7 linked regions of the Homo sapiens genome follow. The protein of the gene in region 1 interacts with the protein of each later gene in a biochemical or structural test. Each region holds a gene or a part of one and is shown in the gene's direction. Other genes may lie near its edges. The genes, in order: HTRA4, KIF17, MMP24, RSBN1, GOT1L1, SLC45A4 and RPS6KA3.

What was found.
Region 2: the proteins of HTRA4 (region 1) and KIF17 interact in a test that uses a peptide from one of them, tested with the Homo sapiens proteins (one large-scale study listed by IntAct).
Region 3: the proteins of HTRA4 (region 1) and MMP24 interact in a test that uses a peptide from one of them, tested with the Homo sapiens proteins (one large-scale study listed by IntAct).
Region 4: the proteins of HTRA4 (region 1) and RSBN1 interact in a test that uses a peptide from one of them, tested with the Homo sapiens proteins (one large-scale study listed by IntAct).
Region 5: the proteins of HTRA4 (region 1) and GOT1L1 interact in a test that uses a peptide from one of them, tested with the Homo sapiens proteins (one large-scale study listed by IntAct).
Region 6: the proteins of HTRA4 (region 1) and SLC45A4 interact in a test that uses a peptide from one of them, tested with the Homo sapiens proteins (one large-scale study listed by IntAct).
Region 7: the proteins of HTRA4 (region 1) and RPS6KA3 interact in a test that uses a peptide from one of them, tested with the Homo sapiens proteins (one large-scale study listed by IntAct).

What each region holds. Positions count from the first base shown.
Region 1 is NC_000008.11:38,977,228-38,980,727, forward strand, and holds part of HTRA4 (serine protease HTRA4 precursor), read left to right. Parts: intron 1-725; coding exon 726-920; intron 921-1,987; coding exon 1,988-2,020; intron 2,021-2,731; coding exon of another isoform or gene 2,732-2,764; exon of another isoform or gene 2,765-3,258; intron 3,259-3,500. UniProt on the Homo sapiens protein: Serine protease.
Region 2 is NC_000001.11:20,711,508-20,715,007, reverse strand, and holds part of KIF17 (kinesin-like protein KIF17), read left to right. Parts: intron 1-1,452; coding exon 1,453-1,554; intron 1,555-3,500. UniProt on the Homo sapiens protein: Dendrite-specific motor protein which, in association with the Apba1-containing complex (LIN-10-LIN-2-LIN-7 complex), transports vesicles containing N-methyl-D-aspartate (NMDA) receptor subunit NR2B along microtubules.
Region 3 is NC_000020.11:35,264,690-35,268,189, forward strand, and holds part of MMP24 (matrix metalloproteinase-24 preproprotein), read left to right. Parts: intron 1-2,515; coding exon 2,516-2,730; intron 2,731-3,500. UniProt on the Homo sapiens protein: Metalloprotease that mediates cleavage of N-cadherin (CDH2) and acts as a regulator of neuro-immune interactions and neural stem cell quiescence.
Region 4 is NC_000001.11:113,802,477-113,805,976, reverse strand, and holds part of RSBN1 (lysine-specific demethylase 9), read left to right. Parts: intron 1-3,500. UniProt on the Homo sapiens protein: Histone demethylase that specifically demethylates dimethylated 'Lys-20' of histone H4 (H4K20me2), thereby modulating chromosome architecture.
Region 5 is NC_000008.11:37,937,325-37,941,623, reverse strand, and holds the start of GOT1L1 (putative aspartate aminotransferase, cytoplasmic 2), read left to right. Parts: upstream 1-1,499; 5' UTR 1,500-1,594; coding exon 1,595-1,709; intron 1,710-2,742; coding exon 2,743-2,924; intron 2,925-3,874; coding exon 3,875-3,986; intron 3,987-4,237; coding exon 4,238-4,299.
Region 6 is NC_000008.11:141,305,489-141,309,701, reverse strand, and holds the start of SLC45A4 (solute carrier family 45 member 4), read left to right. Parts: upstream 1-1,413; 5' UTR 1,414-1,606; intron 1,607-1,809; exon of another isoform or gene 1,810-2,562; intron 2,563-3,750; exon of another isoform or gene 3,751-3,837; intron 3,838-4,213. UniProt on the Homo sapiens protein: Proton-associated sucrose transporter. May be able to transport also glucose and fructose.
Region 7 is NC_000023.11:20,256,910-20,260,409, reverse strand, and holds part of RPS6KA3 (ribosomal protein S6 kinase alpha-3), read left to right. Parts: intron 1-3,500. UniProt on the Homo sapiens protein: Serine/threonine-protein kinase that acts downstream of ERK (MAPK1/ERK2 and MAPK3/ERK1) signaling and mediates mitogenic and stress-induced activation of the transcription factors CREB1, ETV1/ER81 and NR4A1/NUR77, regulates translation through RPS6 and EIF4B phosphorylation, and mediates cellular proliferation, survival, and differentiation by modulating mTOR signaling and repressing pro-apoptotic function of BAD and DAPK1.

The sequences.
Region 1 (3,500 bases):
GCTTGGCCTCTAACTGTTTCTATTAACTATCAAGCAGTCTTTTTTTTTTTTTTTTCCTCCTTCAACAAATGCTGCTTCAGGGAAAATTATTTCTCTACTTGTCTTAGGATATCAGAAATTACTGCGATGGACTCAAAGTTGCTAAGGAATACTTTGAAGTCCTTCCTACACATAGTACTGGTAGTCTGCACATCACATATATTGACATGGTGTCTGAGAGCTTTTTAGAAGTTCAGAGTCTCAGCCTTTACCCAGATAGATGTGCTGACTCAGAATCTGCATTAACATAACATCCCTAGGTGATTTGCATGCACATTACAGTGTGAGAAGTGTCACCCTGGGTGATCTCCTTTCTGTTTGTGGCTTATTCACTTTGACTGTTAAGCTTTGAGCTGGAATGGTGCTGTGTAAATTCCTAATGTCAGTTTATGTTCATCAGTGACTTCACTGGCTGTTTACTAATAGTAATTTCTACAAAGTAATTGTTTTAGATCTTAGAAATGATCCTAGTCATCTTAACACTCAAGAGCTTCATGGTAGTTGGACTTTGAGGAAGAAGTAGAAGGCAATCATAGAAGCTGTGTGAGTGGGTGCTTCTCAGGTGGTAAGGGCCAAGGTGATAGAGACAGCGTCATATATGTGTTAGACACACACTTTGGTCAATTCTGATCGTGATTTGTTCTTTACCCTTTCTGTCCTCCCCATCCCTTTTTGGGCACGTGCAGGCTGAACTTCCTGTACTGATGCTGGGAAGATCATCTGACCTTCGGGCTGGAGAGTTTGTGGTGGCTTTGGGCAGCCCATTTTCTCTGCAGAACACAGCTACTGCAGGAATTGTCAGCACCAAACAGCGAGGGGGCAAAGAACTGGGGATGAAGGATTCAGATATGGACTACGTCCAGATTGATGCCACAATTAATGTAAGTCACTTAGGACAGAGGTGCCCAACCCATGGGCTGTGGACCAGTACAGGTCCATGGCCTGTTAGGAACTGGGCCGCACAGCAGGCTGTGAGCCATGGGCGAGTGAGAATGACTGCCCGAGTTCCACCTCCTGTCAGATCAGTGGCGGCATTAAATTCTCATAGGAGTGCAAACCCTATTGTGAACTGCGCATGCAAGGGATCTGGATTGCATGTTCCTTATAGAATCTAACTCATGCCCGATGATCTGAGGTGGAGCAGTTTCATCCCAAACCACCCCTCCGTCTGTGGAAAAATTGTCTTCCACAAAGCCGGTCCCTGTGCCAAAAAGTTTGGGGATTGCTGACTTAGGAGGCCTTTCCTCAGATCACACAATATTGGCAGTTCAGTGAGAAGAATATGTCAGAGTGAACTTTGGGGATGTCCAGGTTTGGTTGAATCACTGTGGGAGGAATGGAATGCCACTTTGTTAGAGTCTGTCTCGTTCGCTGTGATCGCTGGCATCCATGCTATTAGGTGGTCTGTTGTAGAGGTCACCCCTCCTGTAAGAAGGTGGTGGTCCCTTGGCCAGGCACGGTGGCTCATGCCTGTAATCCCAGCACTTTGGGAGGCCGAAGGGGGTGGATCATGAGGTCAGGCATTCGAGACCAGTCTGGCCAACATGATGAAACCCTGTCTCTACTAAAAATACAAAAATTAGCTGGGCATGGTGGCGGGTGCCTGTAATCCCAGCTACTCAGCAGGCTGAGGCAGGAGAATCACTTGAACCGGGAGGCAGAGGTTGCAGTGAGTCGAGATTGCGCCATTGCATTCCAGCCTGGGCAACAGAGTAAGACTCCGTCTCAAAAAAAAAAAAAAAAAATGAAGGTGGTGGTCCCACTGCTATAGTTCTTTACCTACACTGACTTTGGTATTGGTGATGATAGGGGCACAATTTTGCCGGCCTGGGGGGAATAGGAGCTTGGTGGGCTGCTTTTGGTAAACTGTTTTGGGAGCTATGTGTAAAGGACAAGGGGGAATGTATTCATTAGCTTCACTGATGTCTTTTTCAAATTCTGCTTTTAGTATGGGAATTCTGGTGGTCCTCTGGTGAACTTGGTAAGTGATCACTTTCCTTGTTGCTTCATGTTTCTTCTTAACTTTCAAAGACTTTATTAATTCCAGGCCAGGGGTGGTGGCTCATGCCTGTAATCCCAGCACATTTGGGATGACTGCTTGGGGCCAGGAGTTTGAGACTAGCCTGGGCAAGACAGCAAGACACCATATCTACAAAAACAAAAACAAAAAAGGACTTTACATATTCCATGATGCAGACTTGGGTGCCACTCTTGTGTAGAGAGCTGTGGAATGGTGCTTTTCTGTTCTTGGACCTTAAGTCAATAGTTAGAAAAAATTCAAGATTGTTATCCTGGTGTGTGATCTCATCCCACTGAGAACACTAGGGTTCTAGCTCCGGCTTCCTTTGAAATTTCTCTCTTCCCCGTGCTTTCTGTTTTCATTGGCTAGTTACCCAAAGCCCTGGATTTTATTTATTTATTTATTTATTTAATAGAGACGATGTCTCACTATGTTGCCCAGGCTGGTCTCAAACTCCTGAGTTCAAGTGATCCTCCTGCCTTGGCCTCCCAAAGTGTTAGGATTACAGGCATGAGCCACCATGCTGTGCCAAAAGCCCTGGATATTAAACCCAGGTTTATGCCAAATGACCAGCTTTGCTATGAAATGTAGGTCCTTGAAGACTCCTTGATGCTGCATATGAAGAACTATCTCTCATTTAAAAATGCTAATTACATAATGTCATCTGTCCAGGTTTTTAGTCTTGACCTCTTGACCTGCTTATAGATGAGAGAAAAGCCACAACCAGCACTCCTGACTTCAAGTGAGCTGCCTGCCTTGGCCTCTCAAATACATTGCCGTGTCATGTATTCTTAAATTGTATTCCGTGTCTCTAGTGGAAATGTCAGGGTTTCTAGTTGCCCAAATACATGTGAAAACCTAAGAGAGTGCAATGCTGTTTGACACATAGCATGTGATCATCCTTTCTGAGTCCCTTTGCACTGATTGCTTTTGGTTCCTGTTTAAATATTACATTTGCTTTTAGAATGAATTTTATGCAAAATGATTGTTTTTTTTTTTTTACTCATAGCATTGCATGTCATTTTTCTTTGTTTTGTTCCTGCCTTCTCCATTAGACAATGAGTTTACTAGAGCAGGGATGAAATGCAGAATTTCAGGCCATACCCCCGACCTACTGAATTACAATCTGTAGTTTAACACAATCAGAAATCTCTTTTCTGGCTGGGTACGGTGGCTCACTCCTGTAATCCCAGCACTTTGGGAGTCTGAGGTGGGTGGATCACCTGAGGTCAGGAGTTCAAAACCAGCCTGGCCAACATGGTGAAACCCCATCTCTACCTAACATACAAAAAAAAAAAAAAATTAACTGGGCATGGTGGCATGCGCCTGTAATCCCAGCTACTTGGGAGGCTGAGGCAGGAGAATCGCTTGAACCCGGGAGGCAGAGGTTGCAATGAGCCAAGGTTGCACCAATGCACTCCAGCCTGGGCAACACAGTGAG
Region 2 (3,500 bases), on another chromosome or scaffold:
AATTACCTGGCGACCATTTGTGGCAGTGCACGGGGAATGGCGGATGGGGACAACCCTGATCAGCTGCAGAACCCACTGTGCCACTCTCAGGACTCATCATGGTGGCCACAGCAACATGTAGGGCCTTGGAGAGCTGCCAGGGACCAGCCCAGAGCCAGTGCTTGGCCCAGGCCTTCCCTGTGGCCTCAGGTGTTTTTTTTTTTTTTTTTTTGAGACGGAGTCTTGCTCTGTCACCCAGGCTGGAGTACAATGGCATGACCTTGGCTCACTGCAACCTCTGCCTCCCAGATTCAAGCAATTCTCCTGCCTCAGCTTCCCGAGTAGCTGGGATTACAGGCGCCCATCACCACACCTGGCTAATTTTTGTACTTTTAGTAGAGATGGAGTTTCGCCATGTTGGCCAGGTTGGTCTTGAACTCCTGGTCTCAGGTGATTCATTGGCCTCGGCCTCCCAAAGTGTTGGGATTACAGGTGTCAGCCACCGCACTTTTTCTTTGTTTGTTTTTGTTTTTGTTTTTGAGACGGAGTCTTGCTCTTTCGCCCAGGCTGGAGTGCAATGGCGCGATCTTGGCTCACTGCAACCTCTGCCTCCCGGGTTCGAGCAATTCTCATGCCTCAGCCTCCTGAGTAGCTGGGATTACAGGTGTCCACCACCATGCGCAGCTAATTTTTTTTTTTTTTGAGACGGAGTCTCGCTCTGTTGTCCAGGCTGGAGTGCAGTGGCGTGATCTCAGCTCACTGCAAGCTCCGCCTCCTGGGTTCACGCCATTCTCCTGCCTCAGCCTCCTGAGTAGCTGGGACTACAGGCACCCACCACCATGCCTGGCTAATTTTTTGTATTTTTAGTAGCGACAGGGTTTCACCGTGTTAGCCAGGATGATCTCGATCTCCTGACCTTGTGATGTGCCTGCCTTGGCCTCCCAAAGTGCTGGGATTGCAGGCGTGAGCCACCGCGCTTGGCCTAGCTAATTTTTGTATTTTTAGTAGAGACGGGGGTTTCACCTTGTTGGTCAGGCTGGTCTCGAACTCCTGACCTCAGGTGATCCAACCACCTAGGCCTCCGAAAGTGCTGGGATTACAGGCATGAGCAGCGCCCCGCCCTGTTTTTTTTGTTTTGTTTTGTTTGTTTTTTGTTTGTTTTTGTTTTTGTTTTTAACCTGAATAACGAGGAGGCCTCTGTTTCCTTTCCCATGAGGCTTGTAGACAGAGCATTAGACAGCAATATGAAGATTATGCAACTCAAAGAGGCCTGAGCGCCCACCAAGCTGGAGACAGGAGAGAGCTTGCCAGGAAGGCCAGCAGGGCGGGTTGGGTTGGAGACTCCTCTTGCCCCGATGTCCCTTCTCCTCCCATGATGTCCTGGTGGCAGAGGGCCCAGGCCCCAGGGTCAGACCTGGCAGCAGGTGGACTTCGAGCTCTGAGGTCTAGGTTCTTTCTGTGTACTCCCTGCAGTGTGCAGAGAACACTAAGTTCCTGGTCCGGGCCTCCTACCTGGAGATCTACAATGAAGATGTCCGGGACCTCCTTGGGGCTGACACCAAGCAGAAGCTGGAGGTGGGTGCAGACCCATTGTGGGCAGGTGGGGCTGGTAGGGGGGAGGTTGGCATTGGTGCTGCTCCCTCAGAAATATGGGAAAGTGTCCTGAGGGTGCCGGCACTGGGAGGCTAGAGTCGGGACTTTTTTTTTTTTTTTTAATTAAAAAAAACTTTTTTAGGCAGGTGCAGTGGCTCTTGCCCGTAATCCTAACACTTTGGGAGGCCAAGGTGGGCAGATCACTTGAGGTCAGGAGTTCGAAACCAGCCTGGCCAACATGGTGAAAACCCATCTCTACTAAAAATACAAAAACTAGCTGGGCGTGGTGGTGCATGCCTACAGTCCCAGCTACTGGGGAGGCTAAGGCAGGAGAATCACTTGAACCCAGGAGGTAGAGGTTGCAGTGAGCTGAGATTGTGCCACTGCACTCCAGCCTGGGCAACACAGTGAGACTCCGTCTCAAAATATATATATCTATATTATATATAGTATCTATATATAGATAATATATATATAATATAGATAATATAGATAATATTATAGATAATATAGATATATTATATATATAATATAGATAATATTATCTATATTATATATAGATAATATCTATAATATAGATAATATTATCTATATCTATAATATAGATAATATCTATATTATATATATAGATATTATCTATTTATATATAGATATTATCTATATTATATATAGATATAATATAATTTTATATATATAATATATATAGATATAATATAATTTTATATATAGATAATATTATCTATATTATATATAGATAATATTATCTATATTATATATAGATAATATTATCTATATTATATATATAGATATTATCTATATTATATATATATAGATATATATAGATATATATATAGATAATATTATCTATATATATAATATAGATAATATCTATAATATAGATATATATATGACAAGGTCTCGCTGCGTTGCCCAAGCTGGCTTCGAACTCCTGGCCTTGAGCCTTCCACCTCAGCGCCCCCGGTAGCTGGGACTACAGGCATGCACCACCACATGCACCCAGCCACTTGGTGTTTTTTATGCAGGAGCCTCCAGCCTCCCACCTAGAGTTTTTCTACTGCGTTCCCTCTCCTAGTGCAGCTGAATCATAGCTCAGCCCCCAGACAGGGAAGCAGAGACAGGAGGCAACAGAGGGTGTTGCTCCCACATGTCAGCCCCAGAAGGCCAGCCTGTGGAGTTAGGGCACTCTGGCCCCCTGCAAACCTTCTGCTAACCCGCACTGGAGCAGCAGGGAGCCCTCCTCCCCTTCGTCACTACCCTGGACCCTAGAAAGGCCTCAGTTACCCGGGCCTAGAGGGGCCGAAGGCTGGCAGCTGCTCACACTTGCTGCAGCTGAGCCATGGGTCTCAGGCCTATTGAACCAGCTGCCTTGGGGGCTGCAGTGACAGATGCGCTTGCTGAAACACACTCCAGAGGTCACCGGGCTTTAGACACGCTCCCTCGTGGAGGATGTGCAGATGGCTCTCATGTAAACCTCCTGGCAGTCCAGGAGGAGGCACCGTTCCTATTCCTTGTAACAACAGATGAGGAAACTGAGGCTCCATGTGCCTAAGTAAGACCAACCCAAGGACACACAGTCAGTAAAGAGTGGCGATGGGATTTGAACCCGGGGGCTCCACAGCACACACTCTTAACCCGTGCTTAACACAGGCCCGATCGTGGTTGTAATCAGAGGTTATTACATCACCTAAGGCCAGCAAGAGGTTTGGGGAAGCAGAGTTCTATCCCCTCCCCCTAGCCACTGTAAACTACCATCACAGAACCCAGCCCTGAACTGCCTGATCTGGTGAGGCCTGAGGGGGCCTCTCCAGCGGGTTCTTCCCACCCATGTCCAGGCAAAGTGTCAAGGGCTCCCCTCCCCGTGGCAGCGATGGACACATTCCTGCCATGCTCCCCTCTCTCATCCTTGC
Region 3 (3,500 bases), on another chromosome or scaffold:
AGGGCGAGACTCCGTCTCAAAAAAAAAAAAAAAAAAAAAAAAAAAAAAAGAAAGAAAAGGTGAAAGATGAGAAGCTACTGCTATCTAGGTAAGATATGAAAGGCCTCCTACACACCTCTCTCCCAGTTCTGTTCACACTGGTATGTGAGGTTCTTGTTCTGGTCAAGTCAGGTGAGCTAGGGAGACCAGTTTACTTGAGCAAATGCTTGTCAAGACAGCACAGGCACCCACAGCCCACAGGCTACGGAGCACAGAAGGAGGGCTCCCTCTGGAGGAGATGACCCAGCCAGAGCCCTGGAGGACAGGCAGGACCTCCACAAGTAAAGCAGCAGAGACCAGGTGGGGGCTGTGGGTCCCAGAAGCTATTCCAAAGGTAGAACAACAGGATCTGCTGACAGATCAGACATGGGGTGAGAGGAAGGAGGGAGGGTCAAGGATGCCCCCAGGGTTTCCAGCTTTTGTAATTGTGAAGCAATAGGGTCCACCAGTCTGCAGCTCAAAATTCTAGGCTGGAGGCCGAGGCGGGCGATTACCTGAGGTCAGGAGTTCAAGTCTAGCCTGGCCAACATGGCAAAACCCTGTCTCTACTAAAAATACAAAAAATTAGCCTGGCATGGTGGTGCACGCCTATAATCCCAGCTACTTGGGAGGCTGAGGCAGGAGAATCACTTGAACCCGGGAGGCGGAGGTTGCAGTGAGCTGAGATCACACCACTGCACTCCAGCCTAGGCGACAGAGTGAGACTCCGTCTCAAAAAAAAAAAAAATCTAGGCTGGAATACTTATTTGGGATCTTTGTTGTTCAATACAGTAACCACTAGTCATACACTAGTATGTATTAAATAAACTACTATTAAATAAACTAGTATTAAATTTCATAGTAATGAAATTTAAATTTATATTTATTAGGCCGGGCGCGGTGGCTCAAACCTGTAATCCTAGCGCTTTGGGAGGCCGAGGTGGGAGGATTGCTTGAGGCCAGGAGTTCAAGACCAGCCTGGGCAACAAAGTGAGACCCCTGTCTCTACCCCCCCAAAAATATATTAAAATTATCATTTCAGTTATAGTTCTTTAGTGGGTCTCAGTCACACTAAGAACTAGTCATTCATCTTAAGACCTCAGTAGCCATATGTGGCTGTGGCTAGGGGCTACTGTAGTGAACGATGCAGATATGGACCATTTCCATCATCACAGAACACTCTACTGGACAGCTCTGATGCAGGTCTGTAAAGCCATGAGCCTGGATGAGACCACCTAGAGCAGTGATTCTCAACTTGGCTGCCCTTTGGAATTACCTTGGGATTCTAATAAAAAAACACAGACACCCAGCCCTCAGCTCTAGAGATTTGGTTTTATTAATAGTTGGGTATTGGGCGTGGTGGCTCACGCCTGTAATCCCAGCACTTTGGGAGGCCAAGGTGGGTGGATCACTTGAGGTCAGGAGTTCAAGACCAGCCTGGTCAACATGGTGAAACCCCATCTCTGCTAAAAAAAAAAAAAAAAAAAAAAAAAAATCACCTGGGTGTGGTGGTACGTGCCTGTAGTCCCAGCTACTTGGGAGGATGAGGCAGGAGAATCACTTGAACCTGGGAGGCAGAGGTTGCAGTGAGCTTAGATCACGCCACTGCACTCCAGCATGGGGGACGGAGCGAGACTCCTTCTCAAAAAAAAAAAAAAAAAAAAAAAAGTTGGAGAGCTGGCCTGGTGCTTCCTGAACATCCAGTTTGAAAAGCTCCCAAAGGTGATCCTAATATGCAGCCCAAGTGAAGAAGCACTGACCTAAGGATGAAAATGTAGAGACGGAAGAGAAGAGGACCCAAGGGCACGCCAGCCTCTAGAGTAGGGCAGATGAGGACACGCAGCCAGCAAAGGAGACTGAGAAAGAACAGCCCATGAGGCAGGAGGACAACCAAGAGAGTGTTTCCAGGAAAGTGTTTCTATGAATCTTGCTGCTCAAAATGTAGTCTTCAGACCAGCAGCATCAGCATCACCTGAGAGTGTGAAGGAATGCAAACTCTCAGGCCCCACCCCAGGCCCTCTGAGCCCTCATCTGCATTTTAGCAACATCCCCAGATGATGCATGTGCTTATTAAAGTCTGAGTCAAGTAACCATTGGATGATCTTGGCAGAGCAGTTGGAGTGGGTGACGGGTAGAAGCTGCACTGGGGTGGGAAAGAGAATAAATGAAGGGGGTGAGGAAGTGGGGCCAGTGCGTGTGAAGGGGGCAAAGAGGGTATGGCCTAAGGAAGAGCGCTGACCCTAAGGAAGGACATGATTGCTCTGTAACAGGAGAGAGAAAAGAGAAGATACCAGATTCGGGGATGGAAAGATGAGAGTCCCATTCTAATGGCTATTTTCATCCATTTTCTCAAAGACTGGGGGAGTTAAACTGGGGAGAGGGAACAGGAGGCTGAACTGGGACAGACTTGTCTCAGAGCTGCCTGGGTGATGCTGAGACTGGCAATGGGAGGCGGGAAACGGCTGCCCCCTCTCTAAGATGCAGCTCCTCTCTCCAGGACCCCCAGCCGAGCCTCTGGAGCCCACAAGGCCACTCCCTACACTCCCCGTCCGCAGGATCCACTCACCATCGGAGAGGAAACACGAGCGCCAGCCCAGGCCCCCTCGGCCGCCCCTCGGGGACCGGCCATCCACACCAGGCACCAAACCCAACATCTGTGACGGCAACTTCAACACAGTGGCCCTCTTCCGGGGCGAGATGTTTGTCTTTAAGGTAGGGCCAATGGATTGGCACCACCCAGCTGGCCCCTGACCTTTCCTCCTCCTCCCCGACATCATGGAGCTGGGGAAGGCTCCTGATTTGGGATTCGATTACAATGGGGCCTGGACAGGAGCTAGCCCAGTGGCCAGGGCATGGGGTCTCTTCCTAGTGCTGCTGGGTGAATCAACTGTTCCCAAGAGGGAGGGGGAAAGATGGGTGATCCCTCACCTCCCCTGGGGTTAATGCTGGGAGAAAGTGCTGGAAGCTGGCTTCTGGTCTGTGACCACCCTTCTTGGGACCTCAGTTTCTCCATCCGAAACCTGGGGGAGTCATTCCTCTAACAAAGAGTGTGTGAAGATCCAGTGAGTACCCGGCTCTGAAGATGGTCAACTTGGAGTAGGGGCTAGGTCAGTGGTGGCTGAGTCTGACTCCAGACCCTACCAAGGCTTGAGGGGCTGCTACTGGCAGCAGCCCAGGGTATATCTTGTCATCTGTCCTCCATCAGCCATGGACTGACAGGGTGGCAGTCTGCTTGACGTGTTGCAGGTTGGGCTCTCGGGGAGTGAACTCTGAGGTGGGGTCTGGAATGCAGGATTTCGATTAGAGAGTACTTTCAGAATCAACATTTGTGAGGGGGAGAAGGAAGCAGGACAGGGAAGAGGGAGAGGTTAAGTGGCAACAGAGGCCCATGGCAGCCTCAGCCACCCCCGCAGGGAGCTCTGGGGCTACGGTGGCCTGTCACTCAGCCTACGTTGGGTCCAAAATATCTGGAACATTATAAC
Region 4 (3,500 bases), on another chromosome or scaffold:
AAGCTTTATTGGAATATAGCTCTGTTCATTCATATATATTGTCTATGGTAGTTTTTGCACTACAGTAGCAGAATACAGTAATTGAGACAGAGACCATAAGACCTGCAAAGCCTGCTGTTCGGCTCTTTAGAGAAGTTTGCCACCCTTGAGTTCACTTAAGAGACATGTTCCTTCCTGCACAGCAGTTCAACAGTATTTAATCTGAATTCATGTGGAGACTAATTACAAATTATTACAATCTCAGACATTTGGAGTTGTTCATAAACAGTTGAAACAAAAATTTAATCTGTAAATGCTAGGGTAAACTTGTTCATCTTTAAAACAGAAAGAAGTGATTTTCAGAGAGATGAAGTGAAATGCTTAAAATTTTTTAGTTGGTGATAGAGCTGAATACAGAACTCAATTTTTTTCCCTCATGGCCCAGTTGACCTCTCTTTCTGCTATGCACACTGGGGTTGATTATTTAACAGAGATATTTAAATGCTGTTTTTATTTCTTATAGGGAATAAGCTTGAGTGTAACTAAACTGGAGGTTACCTATGTGTTTTGAAATCTTAATTTTTTTCTCTCCCTCTTATTGCTCATAAAAACATAGGACAGGCCGGGCGCGGTGGCTCATGCCTGTATTCCCAGACCAAGGTGGGCAAATCACGAGGTCGGGAGTTTGACACCAGCCTAGTCAACATGGTGAAACCCTGTCTCTACGAAAAATACAAAAAATTAGCTGGGCTACTTGGGAGGCTGAGGCAGGAGAATCACTTGAACCTGGAAGGCGGAGGTTGCACTGAGCTGAGATTGCGCCACTTGCATTCCAGCCTGGTCGACAGAGTCAGACTCCGTTTCAAAAAAAAAAATAGGACAAACATACTTCCTTAAAAATCCATGAAAAGAAGTAATGCTTCTTTTTAATTATTCTTAGTAAATTCATGATTTTAATATGTTGTTAAAAAGGAAAGAAAGGAAGGACAGCCCCCATAGGCTGTCTTCTCCAATGTCATTACATGACCGGATTGCTCATATGTATGCTCTTGTGAGTCATCTTTCTTATCTCATTTTTTTTTTTTTTTTTACTCTTGACCAGTTGCCTAACTGCTATCACCGAGTGTAAGTGTTCCTGAGCCAGATGTTTAATGGAAATTTTCTCTCATGTCAAAAAGCAGGGATTTTAAGTCCAGAAACACTTCTTTTTGATGTTAGCAATGGAGAATTATTGGGATTATAAGGGAATTGAAATAAACAATCTTATTTATCAGAACAACAACTGTAGGGACTAATATTTTTCCCTGCTCACCCTGAGAGAGGCAAAAACACCTTTAAGGGCACGAAAACTTTTGAAATGGCACTAAGTAAGATATTTGTTGAAGTAATACTCCCTTTATTCCAAGCTACCTCAGGTCCATTAATTGTAACCAGATAATCTTAGTTGATCATCTAATGGGAGTGTTGCAGGGAGATGTCTGATAGTGGAGGCGGAAAGGAAGAGAGTGTAGGGTGCAGTATGTTAGAAGAATTTGTTTTGGAGTCAGATAGGTGAGAAGTTTGAATCTTGGCTGTTGTGTACTAGCTTTGTGACCTAATATAAATTACATATCTTGTTTCAGGCTGTTTCTTTCTCCGTACTTCATTGGTTTGAGGATTAAAATAAAATAACATATATGGTCCCTATTAGACATTTGGCAAATACGTTTTCTTTCCTCTTTCAGAGATCTTTCTTATGTGTTTCTCTTGATAATCAAGATGATAAGAGACTTATTGTGTGTCACATATTGTGATGAGGGCCTTATAGTCATTGTCTCATTTAATTCTTAAAATAACTCTGTGAGATAGACTCTAGAATTAATAACTTTTTTTTTTTTCTGAGACGGGGTTGCCCAGGCTGGAGTGTAGTGAAGTGATTATAGCTCACTGTAACCTCGAACTCCTGGGCTCAAGCGATCCTCCCACCTCAGCCTGTAGCTAAGCCTAGCTCACTCCTGCAGCTAGGACTACAGGCATGCACCGCCAAGCCCAGCTAACTTTTTTTTTTTTTTTTTTTTTGTAAAAATGGGGTCCTGCTGTGTTGCTCAGGCTGGTCTTGAATTCCTGGACTCTAGCAGTCTTCCTGCCTCAGTCTCCCAAAGTGCTGGGATTACAGGCATGAGGCACTGTACCTGGCCTATTATAACATTTTAAGATGAGAAAATTTAGATTTAAAGAGATTTATGAGCTTACCCAGAGACCTTAGTAAACAATAGAGCTGGGACATTGACTTAGGTCTATCTAACAGTACAGCACCTGTTCTTATCTTAAATAGTACACTCTACTGCCTCTAGAATTCAACTGTTTTTGGCAATAATAGTAGTTATGATGTATTGAGTATTTATTATGTTCTAGGACTATTATAAGTACTTCACATGCGTTTTTCATTTACTCTGCACACTAATTTTATAATGAGATACTGTTCTTTCCTCCGGTTTTACCAATGAGAAGCAGTGCAAAGAATTAACTTGCAAAAAGATATGCTATCTCATTCATTATTGTTGGGAATACAAAATGATACAGCCACTTTGGAAGACAGTTTGGCAGTTTCTTAACAAAACTAAACATACTATACGATCCAGCAGTCATACTCTTTGATATTTACCCCGAGGAGCTGAAAATTTGTGTCCACACAAAAACCTGTAGATAGGTGTTCATAATAGGTTTATTCATAGTTACCAAAACTTGGAAGCAATCAAAATGTCCTTCAGTAGGTAAATGGATAAACTGTGGTACATCCAGACAGTAGAATATTATTCAGTGCTAAAAAGAAATGAGCTATCAAGCCATAAAAAGACATGGAGGAACCTTAAATGCATATTACCAAGTGGAAGAAGCCATCCTGAAAAGGCTGCACATTTTATGATTCCAATTATATGACACTCTGGAAAAGGCAAAACTATCAAGAAAGTTAAAAGATCAGTGGTTGCTAGGGGTTTTAGAGAGGGTTGCATGAATAGGCAGAGCACAGAGCATTTTATAGGACAGTGAAACTACTCTTTATGCAACTTAATTAATGGTGGATACATGTCATACATTTATCCAAACCCTCAGAATGTACAACAAGAGTGAACCTGAATGTAAACCATGGACTGCGGGCAGGCGAATAATGATGCATCAATGTAGACTTATCAGTTGTAACAAGTATTCCACTCTGGCTGGGGGTGATGATAATCAGGGAGACAGACTATGCATTTGTGGGAGCCAGGTGTGGTTATAGTTCTAGGAACCTGAAACTGCTCTAAAAAAAAAAAAGTAAAGGCTTAGGGAAAAAAAAGTTCTAGAAAGTATACTTCTAGAAAGTATACTAGAAAGTTATAGAACAGGGATTTAAACCTAGACAGCGCTCTTAAAACACCATAATATAGAGAGATGGTGGGTAAAGTAAGGCAGTGTTAAAAACATACAATGATTCACAAATGTTTGGCTTTCAAAATGAGTAGTTTTTTGTTTTTCCTTTTTAGTCAGGTATTTATATAGAA
Region 5 (4,299 bases), 1.0 Mb from region 1:
CCGGGCACATTGGTGGTGAAGGCCTTCTGGGTGAGACATCAACAGTGTTTGCAACAATCATTTAAAGAGTTATTTAACATCAGGCTGGGTGTGGTGGCTCATGCCTGTAATCCTAACACTTTGGGAGGCTGAGGTAGGCAGATCACTTGAGGTCAGGAGTTTGAGACCAGTCTGGCCAACGTGGTGAAACCCTGTCTCTACTAAAAATACAAAAAAAAGCCGGGCGCAGTGACTCACGCCTGTAATCCCAGCACTTTGGGAGGCCCAGGTGGGCAGATCACCTGAGGTCTGGAGTTTGAGACCAGCCTGATCAACATGGAGAAATCCCCCTCTCTACTAAAAATACAAAATTAGTTGGGTGTGGTGGCGCATGCCTGTAATCCCAGCTACTCGGGAGGCTGAGGCAGGAGAATCTCTTGAACCTGGGAAGCAGAGGTTGCAGTGAGCCGAGATCACACCACTGCACTCCAATGTGGGCAGCAAGAGCGAGACTCTGTCTCAAAAAAAAAAAAAAAAAAAAAGAGAGAGTCATTAAACATCAAAAGGAAAAGAAAGCAAGCAATATGCAGACTGACTCTATAGAGGCTGGCTCTTTTCTCCCCTTGGCCTCTGCTGTCTATACTTACTAGTTGGCTGTCATTGAAACTTAACAAATGGCCAGGTGTGGTGGCTCATGCCTGTAATCCCAGCAGTTTGGGAGGCCAAGGCAGGCAGATCACCTGAGGCAAGGAGTTCGAGACTATCGACAAAGTGAGACTCCATCTCAAAAAAAAAAAAAACCAAAAAAAGAAAGAAAAAGAAACTTAACAAACATATGTAGAAGTCTTGGCTCTAGATAACTGAGAGAAATAGGACTGGCTTAGTGAGTTGCCAATTATATTCTAATAATAGGATTCTTTATTAAAACAACTGTGGAAGAAAACAGTGTTTGCTTTTTATTCCTTTTGAAATCTGGGGCACTTTGCAAAATGGAAATCAATGCCTCGACTTGCATTGGTGTGTGATCTGGGGTTTTTGCTTCTGCAGGAGAAGCCCTATCTGGCTTATTGGCTGCCTGCCTTGCCCTATGTCTTTCTTTCTTTTTTTTTTTTTTAATTTGTATAAATGTGTGAAGTACAAGTGTAATTTTGTTAGATGCATACATCGCATAGTGGTGAAGTCAGGGCTTTTAGGGTATCCATAACCCCAACAATGTACATTGTATCTGTTAAGTAATCTCCCATTATCCTTGCCCTGTCATCTAAGGAGTGGGCTTGTTACTTTGGACTGAGCCACCTGGGGCTAGAGAAGAGAAGGCATTGAGTGAGGGAAACGGGCTTGGGAATTCCGGAGATTGTTATCCTGCCCTGCCCGCTGTCTGAGGGGATTCTCCTCAAGTACCCTGGAATGTTCCTGTGGCCCCTGTGGATCGCCACCACAAAGATCATGAGGTTCTGTTGCCCTGGCAACCCGTTGTCCAGCGCCTCTGCACTGGGGCTGCCAAGGTTCCAGGAAGAGGCAGGACTGCCCGGCCCAGCCTTGGAGGAAGACTTCTGGGCAGAAGCGGAACACAGGAGCAGAGACACATAGTCTTGGCTCCAGTTTCGTTTCAGTTATGCCCACCCTTTCAGTGTTCATGGATGTGCCCCTCGCCCACAAGCTAGAGGGCAGCTTGTTAAAGACCTACAAACAAGATGATTACCCGAACAAGATATTCTTAGCCTATAGAGGTAGATGCCTAGCAGTTCTGAAGTATAAGACTTAAGTGATGGTAACTGCCTCTAGGAGGACAGTGTTCCCTGCTGCAGGGGGAGGGGTGCAGCCCAAGCTTCTGTGGGTGGAGAGATCTTTTCTTGTTAACAGAATTACCCAGTGGGGAAAAGTGCAGATAAGGTCCCAGGTCATTCCATGCTCTCTGCCCTTCTCTGGGGGCTTCTAGGGATTTGGTGAGAGCTATGTCCTCTTCCACAACTCTATGCTTGGGGGCCTGCATGGCCATCCCACACTTCTTCAGATTCTTACCTCCTCTCTCTCTCTTTCTCTTTCTCTTCCTGTTCTTGAACCAAGAATGGTTCTCCAGATTGAGCTTTCTGCTATGCAACTGGGGCTCACCACTGTGAAAGTCAGGGTTACCTTTATTTAGCTTCATCTACCTATAACTCTCATTTTGCATATATATATATATATATATATATATATATATATATATATATTTTTTTTTTTTTTTTCTTGAGACAGGGCCTCACTCTGTTGCCCAGGCTGAAGTGCAGTGGCAAGATCTCAGCTCACTGCCACCTTTGCCTCCTGGGCTCAAACCATCCTCTTGCCTCAGCCTCCTGAGTAGCTGGGACTACAGGCGCTGGTCACCATGTCTGGCTGTTTTGTATTTTTTTGTAGAGACAGGGTTTCATCATGTTGCCCAGGCTGATCTTGAACTCCTGAACTCAAGTGATCCACCCACCTTAGCCTCCCGAAGTGCTGGGATTACAGGCCTGAGCCACCAATCCTGGGCTTGTATAATTTTTAACCTTTAAAATGGCATAGGTTTCAGTTGTCTTTTTTAAAAAGACAAAAATAATACACATTCACTAACAGCATATTCTTTTCATCAAGGAGAAAAGAAAAGGGAAAGTTGTATTTTCACAGGCACCTTCCCACAGCCCCATGGAGTCCAGGAGAGATTTGTTTGCAGGCTGTCTGCAGAGCTCAGCCCTGGGGGCCCAAACCAGGCATCTGGAGCTCCCTCTGTGGTTTTCCTCACAGTCTGCATGACAAATGAAGGCCATCCCTGGGTTTCTCTCGTGGTGCAGAAGACTCGACTACAGATTTCACAGGATCCCTCCCTGAATTATGAGTACTTGCCCACCATGGGCCTGAAATCATTCATCCAGGCCTCTCTAGCACTCCTCTTTGGAAAGCACAGCCAAGCCATTGTGGAGAACAGGGTGAGAAGGTGGGCCCTCCCCTGGCTCATTTAGACACAGAGAGTGGCGATCTGGGTCTGCACAACCTTAAACCCGAAGGGGACCTCGGAGGGCCCCCTGGTATTGATAAAAGAGATACCTGAGGCTCAGAGAGTCCACAAGTCCTTAGCCATCGAGTCAGGATCGGAATCTCAGTCCAGTGGTATTCCCACCTGCTCACACTGCTGATTTGAAAGCTCTTTCAAGACAGGAATGATCTGAATTGGAGGTGGTGTTAGTATTCCCATTACTGTTTTATTTTTTAACCTATTATATATATTTTTTGAGACAGAGTCTCACTCTGTCACCCAGGCTAGAGTGCAGTGGTGCCATCTCAGCTCACTGCAACCTCCACCTCCCAGGTTCAAGCAATTCTGGTGCTGCATCCTCCTGAGTAGCTGGAATCACAGGCATGTGCCATCACGCCCAGCTAATTTTTGTATTTTTTGTAGAGACAGGGTTTCACCATGTTGGCCAGGCTGGTCTCAAACTCCTGGCCTCAGGGGATTCCCTGCCTCGTCCTCCCAAAGTGCTGGGATTACAGGCATGAGCTACTGCGTCTCGCCTCCATTACTGTTTTAGAGTGTTATTTCTGTCTATTTCTTTTTATTTTTTAATGTTTATTTACTTATTATTTTTTTGAGACGGAGTCTCACTCTGTCACCCAGACTGGAGTGCAGTGGCCTGATCTCCGCTCACTGCAACTTCCGCCTTCCGGGTTCAAGTGATTCTCCTGCCTCAGCCTCTTGAGTAGCGGGGATTACACATGCCCAACACCACATCCGGCTAATTTTTGTATTTTTAGTAGATACGGGGTTTCAACATGTTGGCCATGACCTCGAGTGATCCACCCACCCCAGCCTCCCAAAGTGCTGGAATTACAGGTGTGAGCCACCACACCTGGCCTATTTGTGTCTATGTCTTGCTGGCAGGTAGGGGGTGTACACACTGTTGGTGACAGTGGTGCCTTCCAGCTTGGCGTCCAGTTTCTCAGAGCTTGGCATAAGGATGCTCGTATAGTTTACATCATCTCTTCTCAAAAAGGTTAGTCTTACCCAAGATGAGGGGAACAGCAATCCCCGTCCCTTGTTCCTAATCCTCACCCCATTTGCCATCTTCACTGTTATCCCTCATTCTCTGTCATGAGCAAAATGGCAGACAAGCCAAGCTATTTATGTCCTTTTCCTGTTAATGTCCCACCTTCAGCCAGTGACTCTCAGCCCCACACTCCAGTACCTCTGTCTCCGTCTCTCTGTTTCCCATGTACCAGCTAGTGGGGGGCTGTGTTCCCACAGAACTGCATGGACTCGTCTTCCAGGACATGGGCTTTACAGTTTATGAATACTCTGTCTGGGAC
Region 6 (4,213 bases), about 100 Mb from region 1:
ATTATTCACTGTCATTGCTGTCATTCCACTGTGTGAATATATCACAATTTATGTATCCATTTAACGGCTGATGAGCATTTCAGTAGTTTCCAGTTTGGGGCAATTATAAACACTGCTGCTATCAACAGAAACACAATGTTAGGTGTGTATCTAGGAGCAGAATTGCTGGGTAATCAAGGCCTTTCAAAAAGATTTTGAAAGTTGTACCACTTTGCATGTCCACCAACAGTGTCTGGCAGTTCCAGTTGCTCCATTTCCTTGTCAACACTTGATATGGTCAGATTTTCCCATTTCCGATGCTCTTGGAGGCTCTGCTCTGCACTTCACTTCTAAATTCCTTTAGCAACAGGTGAGATGGATCTTACGATTTCTATTTTACAGATGAGGACGCCAAGGTTCTGAGAAATGAAGTAATTCCTCCAAAGCAACTTAAACCCTGGCAAGGGTGCAGGGCTGCGACGTTAACAGGGTTGGCCTCAGCCCATCACATCTGTCTGTTAAAGCCGCCTCCCCAGACCTTGTCTTGATGGGGTTTCCCAGCAGTCCTGCCCTAGGGATTGTGGCCCTTCTACACGTGGGGAGAGACGGATCAGTGTCCCTGGCCAGGGCCAAGCCTGAGAGGGAGGCCCAGCCTCCAGGAAGCTCCGGGTCGGGTCTTCGTCCTGCCCCGCTCTCCAGGTTGGAGAGGGGACCCGCAGAGCGCGGGGCGTTGGGGGAGTTGGGGACGGGGGCGTGGTCCGGGACCAGGTAGGAGGTCTTCGGAGGGTGGCAGGGAGGGGAAAACAGGAGAGTTTTCTCCTGCAGCGGAGGAGGGGCTGCAGCACCTGGATGGGGCCCATGTCGCCGCGCCACGGGCAGGGGCGGAGGGGGCGGGAGGGTGCTTGCCAAGGGGCTGGGCTGCCGGGGGCCGGGGCCTCGTGGCTAGCCGGACCCCTCTGCGACAGAGTGGCGAGAGGAGCGGGGAGAGAAGGTGGGGACAGGCGGGGGCCACCTCCTGCGGCTGCAGAGAGGGATGGGGTGGATTGCGGGCCAGCGCTTTAGGGGAGAGAGGGCGGACGCTCGGTGCGGAGGGGCCGGGGCCGGGGCCGGGGCCGGGGGCGTAGCGGGAGGAGGGCGGGGGCGGGGCTGGATTATGGCTGGGGGCGGGGCCATGGCGAGACGGGGGCGGGAGCCACGGTGCGCGCGGGGGCGGGGCAGGGGCGCGGCGGGGGCGGGGCGGCCGTTCGGGGGCGGGGTGGGCGGCAGCGGAGGCCAATGAGCGCGCGCGGCGCAGACCCCGCCCCCCGAATCCCCGTCCCGCGGCGGCGGGTGCTGCATAGTCATGAGGCGCAGGGGCCGGCGCTGCGTCAGCGGAAGCGGCGCGGAGCGGCTGTTTCCGACCCGATAAAGCGGCGTTGTCTCCGCGCGCCGGCCGCAGCCTCGCAGCGCTCTCTCCGCGCCCGCGTCGCTGACTGACCGCCCGGCCGGCCGGCCGAGGGAGCAGCCCCCGCCCGGACCCGCAGCCGCCTCCCGACCCCGGTGCGCCCGGGGCTCCGCGCCCCCGTAGCCCCTGCCCGGCCCGGCCCGGCCGCCCCGCCGCCCCCGCGGCCCCGGCCGGAGGAGACAGGTGAGTGGCCTGCCGCCCGCAGCCGCCTGCCCCGCCGCCCCCTGCACCTCGCACCTGGGCGCCGGGCACCTGCAGCCTCCCCACCCCCACCTCCCGCACAGCCTCGGCCTCCAGGTCGGGTCCGCGCCGCAGCCCCAGCCCCGCACCTTCTCCGGGGGAGGGGACGTGCCCCCACCCGGCTTGCGCTGGCTCCTCAGGGCCCCCCAATTCCTTCCCGCCTCCTCTTTCCGGATTGCACCTGCCCTGGTCCCCAGCCCTGCAGCCTCCCTCATTCCCCCCACCCCGGCCCCCACCCCGGGGCGCGCGCCTTCATTTGGACCCGGCCCGCTTTCGCACCCATCAGTCCTCCCCGCCCCCAGTTCCTCGGTTTCTCTACCCAGAGAGGAGCCTGGCGCCTCTAACTCCTGGTCCTGACCCTGTCTTGTCCTTCTAACCCCTGCCTGCTATCTCTAACTTATGAGAATTCAACCAGCGATACACCACTCGCGAAGTGGCCCCCTCTCCCCTCTGTCTGGACCGGTCCTCCCAACCGAACACACTCCCTTCTTCCCCTTCTTCCCCTTCCCTTCTTCCCCTCCTTTCCCTCTGCCCAGTGCACACACGACCCTGGCAGCACTGCTAGCCAGTGTCCCCCGCCTCGGACCCCCAGCCTGCACCGCCAGACTGTGGCTCTGCCCCGGTCTCATCGGCACTGCGCTCCCTTGTGTCCCTTTGAAGATACCTTGATTTCCTGAGACCGACCTTGTCCCTGGAGGAAAGAGGCCAGGGCATCAGTTCATCCGGGCCCAGATTCCCTGCTCTGTAGAAGTCCCCGCACCTTCTGCGTCTCAGCACCCGCTGCCCCTTTCCCCTTTGCGCTTAACCCGTTCCTCCCCCAGGTATCCTGCTCTGGATTGGAGCACTTCCAGCAGCGGCTTTTCCAGCGGAGGCGGATCCACACGGGGCCCAGCCTCCTGGTTAGCTATTCAGAATGATTCTAGAAGGCGGGGGCTAGGGAGGGCTGGGAAGGGCCGCTTGACCTCCTAAGGAGCCTGAGGTGTTTGTGTCTCTCCAGTGCGGGTCACTGATGGAGTGTGGCTTCAGGTTCACAGACCTAGCCACTGACCCCCATCTGATACCTCAGCTGACTCCAGCAAAACAGGGCTTGTCGTTTTTATTACTGTTTTGGGGGCTGTCTTTTCCAGTCTATGACCCGGAGCGAGGAGGGTTTACCAGATGAGTGATTGAACTAATTGTTGTGGGGTCAGATGATTCTTGTGGGCTGGTAGATTCTGAATCGAAGCCCATTTCTGCTGGGGAAAAGCCACTGCATCTGCCCAGCATTACTGAGAGCGCCCTGCGCTTCCATTCCCCAGACGGTCTCATCCTTCCTGTGTCATTGGCAGACAGGTAGAATGTGGTAGGAATCTTATCCTTCTGTTATTTTGTGCTGGCTTTAGGAAAAAATAAGAAAACAAAAAGCTGGAGTATTGGTGTACAGGTTAGGGAGTGTAACACATGGGGATCAGAGCAGGTAACACACACTGTCCTTAAAAGAAATGTATAGTGTCCTCACTTTTCTGCTAGGTTTGAATTATTGTTAAAAGAACGAGCAGAGATTATTTAAATGCTTGGGAGAGGTTTTGCAGAAGCCACTTGATGAGAAGAGGCAGCCCTGCAGGTTCCGGGTGGAGGAGACTCAGGCGCAGTAAAGAACTCATGTGTTTCTAGAGAGAGGCTGGGGAACTAGGTCGTCTTACACATCAAGGATTTCACACCCGTTCAGGCTAATTGTTTTTGTGGCAGTGGCTGTAAAGGAAAGAAGCAAATCGTTTGAAATGTGTTTGAAATACACACTGGGTATTTAAAGGTGTGTTTTTTTGGCCCAGGTGTTCACAGGGCGGGGAGTGGGGAGGCTGCCCAGGGCCACCTCCCGGGCCTCGTGGGGGGAGTGGCCTGCTGCCCTGCCGAGATGCGTGCTGCAGCTTTGGCCCTTGTCGCATCGTGAAAGCAGATCAGAGATTGGACTGGGTGAGCTCCAAGGTGTGTGTCTTGCAGCTTGTAACACCCTCTAACTTTGCTTATTGGAGGGGGGTGGGGGAGGGGCGGAGCAAGCCTGTAAACCGGATTCTGCCTCCTTTCCGTGAGCTCTGAGATCCCGCCCCAGCCCGCCCCGCAGATCTGCAGGGAAGGAGAGGGCTGCGGCAGCGGCAGCTCCCCACTTTCCCGATGGAGGAAAGGAGCCGAGGAAGGTATTTCAGCCAATCTTGAGGTTGCTTGGTGGTGAATGGATTGTATCTGTGTTGTCAGGAGAGAGGTGGGGAGGACAGAGGAGTGCAGCGCAGGGGTTCGGGCTGTGATTGTCGTTCTGACCGTGGTGCATCCCAGTGCCCTCTCCCGCTCTTCCCGAGGGTCCTGACGCCCAGTGGCTGGCTGGGGTGGTTTGTGACCAACAGCCTTGTGGCCTGGCACCGAGTGAGGGTGACTGACAAGCACTGTAGGTGGCAGACAACCCCAAATTGCCAGTGCCCTTCTTGGGAACACCCCTGGCAGAGTCGTGTCTGTAATTTGTGGAGGCAGAATATGCTGGAAGCCGCGTTCCTGCTAATGATGGGTGAGGACTGTTCC
Region 7 (3,500 bases), on another chromosome or scaffold:
TTTTTAACATTGCTCAAATTGGAAGATGTCTCACAGTCCATGGGATGTCATAGTTTAATTAGCAGCATGTTTTTCCTTAACAATATATAAAATAATAGTGTATCTTACACTTGATTGTATCTTTTAATCAATGAAATATAGTGTATTCTGTATGTCTACCTCTTGAAGATAATGTGTCCCTGAAGAAATGGTTAAAGTCAGTTTATAGCATCAATAGGTAGAATTTTAACTTTCTTTCTAAAACATACCAACACAAAATGTGCACACCTTTTTATATTTTAGGATGAATCCGTTCTGTTAATTTTTAGGGAAGGAAATTAATATGTCACACCTCCTTCCCCATTACTATAAATACATTTGTTTTAGTTATTTCGAAATGCCATAGGGTAACTGGGTTTTCCTGTCTAGAAATGTAATCCTTTAGATTTTGTCTGTAATGTGGTGTTGGTTCTTACAGAACTCTAAATAGTATATATAGTATTTTTCAAGCCGAAAAGTCTCTGGAGATATGATGTTAAAAGGTGTATCCATGCCTCAAGAATCACCCCCCTCCAAAAAATAAGGTAGTGTGGCATAATCAAGTAAGTTGGGGAAATGTGGCATTAAATAAGATTTAACCTGTCTTTACTGTATAATTTAGAACTTTTAAGATGTTGTATACAATGAATCTGCAAAATGGATATGGCCCACGGCATTTGAGACTTGATGTCAGAACCCCTTTTTTGTAAACCATCTATTGAAGTCTCAGTGGACACAAAGTGCTTTGCAGAACACAGTTTTGGAAAGTCTGATAACTACAGTAACGCGATCCAGTATTGCCTGGAAATGAGCTGTTATGTTTAATTGACTATATTGAAGTGTTTTCTTTAACTGTCAAGAGTTTTGTTTCATTTTGAATTGAAATCTTTCTAAATTAAATTGTATAAAAATGTTCCGTCTTAATAGTGAATATAAATTTAATAATAATTTAAATAAAAGTTAAAAATAATTTACACTTTTGATTCACTGTTCTGAAAATTAATGGTCATATTCTACTTAATATCAAGCTAATTGCCCCTACTAAATGGCCTGTACCTTGACTGTTTCTGTAACTTATGTCTAATATTTGTAGTTTAAAAATTCTCTTATATGCCACTTTATGCCACTGTTAATCTGCTTTTCTCTCCCATTTTCCTGTTTAAATTAATTGCTTCTTGTTTTCACTTACTAGAGAATAGATAGCTAGGATTAGTAATATAAAAAAGTTACAGTTTCCAAATAATGTAAAATAGCATCCTCACTCTTTTTCTGGTCTCTGCTCATCATGTACAAATACCTCTGGGGTCAGGGGTATTTGCTGGGCATATTACCAAATAATAAATAGTGATTTTATGTTTTACATACCATAACAGAATGGCTCAATTGCTGACATTACCTGCCCTGCATATTTACCTTCCTCTCTTGAAGATGTCAGCTAGAAAGTAGAACATGAATGAACTAAAAAACAGGCAGCTTTAAATTGAAAGCTAGCCTACTGCCCTGCCTGGAGTCACATCTCCACATTGTGAGTCCTTTTCTGTTGTTCTCATAAAGTAGTGCTAGTTTCCTAAATATTTGTTACTCTACACGTAGGTGTAAATCTAAAAGCACTTTTAGATTTCTTGTCATAGTAGAATTACAACCATAAGTTAAATCGAATTTTCCCATCTTAACTAATATATCCATGGTCTCTTATATAACTTAAAAACTTGTTTTGTCCACCATATAAATTGATTTTTATAATCTTACATATGGTGATAATCTCATCTTCAAATCTGACCTGGTCATTTAGATTTCTGTGAGCTTGTCTCTAATTCTTTGGGCCACAAAGCTTGTCCTAGGAAACTTGGTTCAGTCATTTGATATGTGTTAGAAGCAGATGTCAAATGATAGCCTGAAGCAAAAGATCATTTTGACATTAATAGATTGAAATGCATCTCAAGTGCAGTGGTTTGGGATAAATCTTCACTCCAGAAATCTTGTAAAACCTGTGGCAAAAATCTCAGCTACCTAGAATGTTACTTCATTTCTTCACATTTAGGAACAGAGGCATCTATCTGAAAATAATGTAAAATAATAAAGATTTACTTAAAATCACAAAAAATTTCTGGATCAGCACTGTTTAGTACAGTAGCTGCTATCTATATGTGGCTGTTGAGCACTTGAAATGTGGCTAGTGTGGAAGTGAACTTTTAAATTTTATCTAATAGTCACCAGTGGCTATTGGCTACCATGTTGAACAGTACAATTCCAGATTACAGGATTAGTACAAATTGAATGCATTTTTTACACCAGTGTTTTTTCATTTCTACCTTGTATGATTTGTATCTTGAAATTAATAGGCTAAACCTTTTCTAAAAACAAATATTTAACATGCTTTTTCAAATTATGTTTAATCAGGTTAGTTTTGTCCTTTTCTACCCTGAAGATTCTGATAAACCCTCTAGGGTGGTACATACCCCACAAATCACCATTCTACTCTTCCTACAGCTTTAATAGTTTTACTGTGACATCTCATTCAAGTGATAACACTAAAGCATTGGGGCAAATTTAAATATCAAAAAATGTTGTAATTACAAGTTTCCTCTTGTGCACCGAGCTTACAGACCGAGACATAAACAGTAAGACTAATGTCTCTGGGGAGAAAAATATACAATTATCTTCTATATTATTGGATAAATAAATTACTGTATGGTAATTTGTTTAAATATTGTGTTGCATTCACTGTACTGTGCTAGTTAAAACGGAAAAAGTGGATTGGTGCATTTTGAAATATGAAAGCATTTAAATTTTTTTAGCATATAATTTTAGAGAACAACTTAGCCCTACCCTATTTATGTAAGAAAATTGAGACCTGTTCAGGCAGACCTGCTGCAGGTGATATGTTAACAAAGTCAGAGTTGGCGTGTGCAGCACATTTATTTCACTAAAATTCATTTTGTCATCCACATCATATCAATACAACTCTTTAATTTTATGTAAACTATCTTAAATACAAATTCTGAAAGAGCCACAATGCACAAAAGTTCAAATATTACTTTTTCTCTACTCTCTGCTAATTTTAACTCGTAAGTCTGGAAAATACAGTCCTTAGTTTACAAAAACAACTTCAGAATGTTCCTACCTACAAACCAAGGGTGAGGGGTACGTTAAGATCACTGCTCTTTCTTTCCCAAGTGAAGATGGAAGGAAGCTCACGTCTATTGAGTGCCCCCCTTGACAAGTCACTTTGTGTATATCAACTTGAATGAAGTATACAGAATTATCCTCAACTTACAGATGAGGAAACTGAAGCCTAGAAGGGTTAAATAACGTGCTCATGGTTGCCCAGCTAGTAACTGAAGGAGCCAGAATTCAAACCCAAGTCTCACAGATTGCAAATTCTAATGACTTTTCACTACACAGCCCTGTTTGAGTTGAGAACATCCAGGTGAGTGACTCAGTCTAAATGAAATCTGCTACAGGGGAAAAAGGTTCCAGGT